2 separate regions of the Homo sapiens genome follow, and region 2 is linked to region 1. The links come from fine-mapping of genetic effects on gene expression. A gene starts in region 1. The other region holds a variant in brackets. All regions are shown on one strand. Distances are from middle to middle. Region 1 holds the start of GRHL3 (grainyhead like transcription factor 3). Region 2 has its middle 5.4 kb from the start of IFNLR1.

Region 1 (2,910 bases):
AGTCATAAGGGCTCTGCAGAGAACAAAAAGTAGTGTGATCCAGAGTGATTGAATGTCTACTTTATTAACAAGGGTGACTGAAGAGGGCTGCTCTGAGGAGGTGGCTTTATTAGCAATTATTTACTATTATTTATTAGGGTCCCCTGGGCTTCCCCCAACACAGCCTCCAGGGAGAAACCAATCTCTGAGAGTTCTCAAACCCAGTACCCCCTCTCCAGAGCCCTGACCCCACCCCAAGAGGGCTCCTTTGAATTCTGACTTTACCCTGAAAAACCTCCATAAATTGGCAGGGGTAGCTGAAACCTCACTTGCCGTTCCCAGAGAAGAGAGAGAGGAGTGGGCCAAGTTGAGGTTTCCAGGAAGACACAGCAAAGAGATAATTTGCCAAAAGGGGAAGGGTGGGGGAGGGGAGAATAGAAAGAGAGAGAGGGAAAAAAAGATGCCAAGATCTCTGGCTTAGATTTAATTTCAAACTAATCCTGGAAGAAGCTCTTTAAAAAGCTCTTACATTCTCCTGTTTGTGTTTGTGGATATTCTGGGGTTTACCAAGCTTGTTCTTTATAGTAGACAGCTCACAGCAATTACTCCACAATTACTTCATCTGACAGGCATTGAATTTCTCCCAAGTTCCCAATACAGAACGAAGCACTTGGAGCCTGTGAAATGACCAGCTGGCTGAGGCTTCAGAGGAGCCTTCAACTTTTCTATCCCTTCTGTGCTGACCAGAGGTATGTGGCTTGCCCACACCCCCTTCACACCCAATAAAAGCCTGTTCTCCTTTACTCCCCCACCCCCTGCCACCAACACACACCCCCCAGATTGTAAACTCCTTTAGAACAGTAACCCCTGTTTTTTCTGGCCTCAGTTTCTCCAGAACCCAGAGTAGGGTCTGGCACACAACGGGTGCTCAATGAATGTCTACTGAATTGAGGCCACTGACTTCAGCCCAAGGGGCAGCCAGACTTGGAGTGAGATGACTGCAGATTGGATCTGGGCTGGGACCTCGCTAGCTGTGCCCTTGGGCAAGGCACTTTGCCTCTCTGGCCTCCATTTCCTCCCTCATCTGTAAAATATGTGTTGAAGAGGAAGGGGGAAGCGATAATAAATCTACCACGGTAGGTTACTTTAAGAACCAAAAGAAGTCACTTGAGTAACTGCAAAAGATTATTCAAAAATATTACCTTAAAGGGGAAACTGAAAAAAAGGGAACTTATACAAAGATCTACCTGGGAAAAGTTGCTCTCTCCTTTGAGAATTCCCCAGTGGTACAGAAGGAGGGGGCAAAGAAATTTGGGGGTGGGGATGTTTCTGGGTATCTGGGACAATGACTAGAAACAGGAATCAAGTTTTCCTTTAAGCCAAGTTATCTGTTTGTCCCTGTACTTTTCCTCTAGTTATCTTGCTTCTTTCCAACATTTTCTTCTCCATCCCTCCTCCCTCATCTCCACCCCCCACCCCCTCACCAAGGAAGGAATTGGCCAGCTCCACCCAGCCAGTCCCCCATAGCTCCGCCCTCCTCGGCGGGCTAAGAGTTAACAGCTGCACCTGTTGAGGTATACCTCCAGTCGCCGGCACCTGTACCTGTAGCCAATCAGCGCCAGCGCTGCTGGGAACCTACCTGTCAGCAAAATCTCGACACCCAAACCTCAACATAAATCAAACACTTTCCCGGGCAGAGAATGTCTGTGTCAGGCAAGAATTAGAGACAAGCGGTCAGCAGAGCCTCAGTGCTGATCGTCGGAGCTTGGGAGCAGGAAGATGTCGAATGAACTTGAGTGAGTAAACATCGGTGGATACCTGCCGCTCTCAGAGCGTGGAGGCTGGATGGGGTTTCCTGGAGGGGGAAGAGCGGGGAGGCCGGCACCGGGATTCACAGAGCAATTTGTAAGGGTAAATGAATGGGCTGACGATCTTACTTTGGCGTGTCAAGGCAAGCCCCAGTCTCAAGCTAGAGGTGAGTGTTTCCCTGGGAAAATAGTTTTTCTCATTCTCTTTGCTGAGCAGTTTCGAGCCAGGCAGGGAAACACAAGACTGAAACTGTGAAGGTTTCTGGCACCACTTTTTGATCCTCTGAAGGGGCCTTGGAAATCAGACGACCCCAATCCCATCGAGGCTTTCTATCTTCTTGCCAAAAGGAACTTCTTTAAGGTAGTTCTAAGAGCTGTCTTAGGCAGAGAGTTGGGTTTCTCTAAAGGGACTTGTTTGCTGGGTTGGAACAGTCCCAAGTGGGAAGGTTACAGTGTGGTGGTTAAGCATGTGTACTCTTTGTAGTGGGCTTGACCTAAGTTCAAATCCAGGCTCTGTCCCTGGGTGATCTCAGACAAGACATTCAATTTTTCTGGGCTTCATTTTCCTCATCTGGAAAATGGGTACAAGAATGCTTTGTAGAATTCTGGAAAGAGTTAAGTGTGATAAATGCTGTAAAATGCTTAGCATAAAGCTATGGTCTGAAGATGCGTTCAGTAAAATGTGGTTCCTCTCATTCAGAGGCAGTTCTAAGGCTGGGGAAGATGAGAAGTGATTTTTGGTAGGTCACCTCTTTTGGCTGGGAGGATGCATGTGCCTTCCTGCCCACATCTGAGATTTAAGATCCTGACTGACTGATGCTGATCTTCACCATGATGTCCTTCTTGGGGTCCAGACCTTAGAGAAGGTAGGGTGAGGCTGGGATCTGGGCTGCTTTAGATTGGGTTCAGGGAGCTGGCAGGAGAAGCCAGAATCCTTTAAACACAGGCTCTCCTTTTCCTGCCACCCTCAGAGGTGAGTGGGCAGAGGCAAGGATTGTACCATCTTTTTTCTAACTGCTCCTCAACAGACTTTTAAGAACTTGAAGATCTGTGGGCAGACAGCAGTGCTAGGTCCTGACTGCAGACCGGATTCTATGTTCTAGCTAGCCCTTCAGCTCTTCAT
Region 2 (2,910 bases), 130 kb before region 1:
CCGGCCACAGAGGCTTCCAGTTCCCTTCTTTCTCTTGCCCCCTGGCCTTTTCAAACACTGGTCCCTGTGGTGGGAATTTCCTTCCCAGGCTTATCTTCCGCTAGTCTTCCAACAGGCCCCTATTCTTGATTCAGTCTCAGCTCACATGCCACTTCCTCAGGGAGGCTTTCTTAACCACTGTCTTTGATTTGCTCCCAATCCCCATGTATGTCTCTGACTTAGCCCATTTTGCGCTGCTGTAACAAAATACCACAGAGTGAGTTATTTACAAAGAACAGAAATTTATTTCTCACAGCTCTGGAGGCTGGGAAGTTCAAGTTCAAGATGCCTTCAGGTTATGACCCAGTCTCTCTGCTTCCAAGATGGCACCCTGAATGTTTTGTCGTCTGAAGGGGAGGACACCGTGTCCTCACATGACAGAAGAGGAGAGAGAGAGAGAGAGAGAGAGAACCCATTCTCACAAGCCCTTTTTATGGACTCATTAATCCATTGATGATGGCAGAGCCCTCACGACCTACACACCTTCCATCAGGCCCTACTTCCCAACACTGTCGCATTGGGGATTGAGTTTCCAGCACATGAATTTTGAAGGCCACATTCAAACCATAGCAGTCTCTTTGATATGAATTAATCACAATATCATCATTTTTGTGCACTGAATATCTTACTTCTTGGATACAACTCTAATGACTCGCTCAGGGCCTGGCACATAGTAGGTGCTCAATGAACTGTGAGTAAGCAAACCTTTGCTGAATGGGGCTCAGTCAAACACAATTTCATATGCCCTAAACAACTCAGCCCCTCTCCTGGTTCTTATCTGCCACGCCTTAGCCACTCACTAAGTGTTTACTGACTTGAACTTGGCATATGACTCATAGTTAGAAGACCTCAGTGTTTCTTTCGAAAGTATAACTCCACTGTCATGCTCCCCTCCATAGCTGGGATTTTACAGTCTTCTGTTGTCCCCAAGAATAATGTTTAAAAAATAATGTGGCTGGGCACGGTGGCTTACGCCTGTAATCCCAACAGTTTGGGAGGCTGAGGTGGGTGGATCTCCTAAGGTCAGAAGTTCAAGACCAGACTGGCCAACGTGGTGAAACCCCATCTTTACTAAAAATACAAAAATTAGCTGGGCGTGGTGGCATGTGCCTGTAATCCCAGCTACTCGGGAGGCTGAGGCAGGAGAATCGCTTGAACCTGGGAGGTGGAGGTTGCAGTGAGCCAAGATCATGCCACTGGACTGCAGCCTGGGCAATGACAGCAAAACTCTGTCTCAAAATAATAAAATAAAATAAAATAATAATAATAATGTGCAACAGGGGAAACAAAACCACATTACTCTGTGTGTGTGTGTGTGTGTGTGAGAGAGAGAGAGAGAGAAAGAGGGAGAGAGAGAGAGAGAGGGAGTTCACAGCCTCTCCCTCTCCTGTCTACTAAGATAATTATGCGCAGGCTGGCAAAGTGTCCCATAGGACTGGGAAAAGGCAGGAGAGGAGGCAAAATGTAAAAGCCAATTGGGGCTGGGTTTTAAAAGTCAGTTTTGGGGGACATGTGGAGAGAAAAGGAGCAAGTGCAGGGACCAGCTGCTCTAAGAGCTGAATGTGAGTGTGAATATGAGATGTATGGAAAGAGAGGTGGAGAAAATGGATTTCCAAATTTTTGGCTCTGTGTCAGGACTGAAATTTCTTTTGGCATTTTCCCCCC[C/A]CAAGAAACTAAAGATTTTAAACCATTGTTGTTTTGACTATTATTCTTCTTGCTGTTGTTTTAATGTAATGCTGGAGGCAGGCAGGGCCCAGTACAAGAACAAGGAGATCATTTGTATGTGGGAGTGGAATTTAAGACTTTACCAGCTGCAAGAACACAAACTCTAAACTGACATAAGTGCAAAAGGAATTCTGCAAGTTCCCCAGATTGAGAAGTTCAAGGATGGATGTGGCTCTGGGACGGCTCTAGTGGAAACAGATTCTGATTGGCCTGGCTTGGGTCACATGCCATTTCCTGAGCCAATCGATGTGGTCAGAAGAATGGGCTACTGTCATTGGCCTCTCTGGGTAGAATGCCCATCCCGGGGGAGAGGGGTAAGGGAGTATTCTGATTGACAGCTCCTCCAACTATAGGAACTGGAGGAAGATTGGTTCCTCAGAGGAATGGAGGCTGCAGAGGCAAACGGCATACACCCACTGCTGGGTTGCAGAGGAGGAGTCCTTAGAGATCATCCCCACCAACTTCCTACCCTGAAAGTCTACCCTCTTCAACATCCTGGAGAGACCAGCTGGATGCTGCTGCTTGGACTCATTGGGGGACGAGATCCTGCTATCTTTTGGGGCTGCCAATTCTGTTTGTGAACAGTTCTAGTTAGGAACATCGCCCTTACTTTGACCTACCTCCTTGTAATTTACCCTAGTCATCTAATTCTTCCTTTTGGGGCCTCACAGAAGAAAACAAAGCCCTTCTCCCCATGCCAGCCTTTACAGATGTTAAGTCTCAAGATCCTTCTTGTAGATGGTGCACAGATGACAGCCAGTTTCCTGGTGTAAGAGCACCAGCCTGGGAACCAGGAGACCTCAGTTCCAGCCCTCACGCCGGCTTTAATGCAGCGAAGTGGCCTTGCTTGGAGGGAGGTATACACAGTTCCCATTTCACAGATAAGGATACTAAAGTAAAGGGAGGTTAAGAGACATGCCCAAGGTCACACAGGTGGAAATGGGGAAGCTGGAACTCACATCCAGGACCACACAATTCCAAAGCTTCTTTCTTTATCACTCTGTGGTCTTGAGAAAGTTACATCCTTTCTCTGGGCCTCAGTTTTCTCATCTGTAATTTGGGAACTTTCATGTGTATTAGAATCACCTGGCTGGAGTGCAGTGGCATGATCACGGCTCACTGCAGCCTCAATCTCCTGGGCTCAAC

The links.
Region 2: its variant is fine-mapped to the expression of GRHL3 in lung (TOPMed, PIP 0.94).

Annotation. Positions count from the first base shown.
Region 1 is chr1:24,317,794-24,320,703 of GRCh38, forward strand. It overlaps GRHL3 (grainyhead like transcription factor 3), which reads left to right and starts at 1,564. Exons shown (of 16, transcript NM_198173.3): 1 at 1,564-1,775. The coding sequence starts at 1,759. The region is part of intron 1 of GRHL3-AS1 (GRHL3 antisense RNA 1); the gene reads right to left.
Region 2 is chr1:24,191,243-24,194,152 of GRCh38, forward strand. No RefSeq gene overlaps it. Among named protein-coding and RNA genes, the nearest start is that of IFNLR1, 5.4 kb to the left of the region's middle. RefSeq lists an enhancer at 166-255. The variant C/A (reference allele first, on the strand shown) is at 1,705.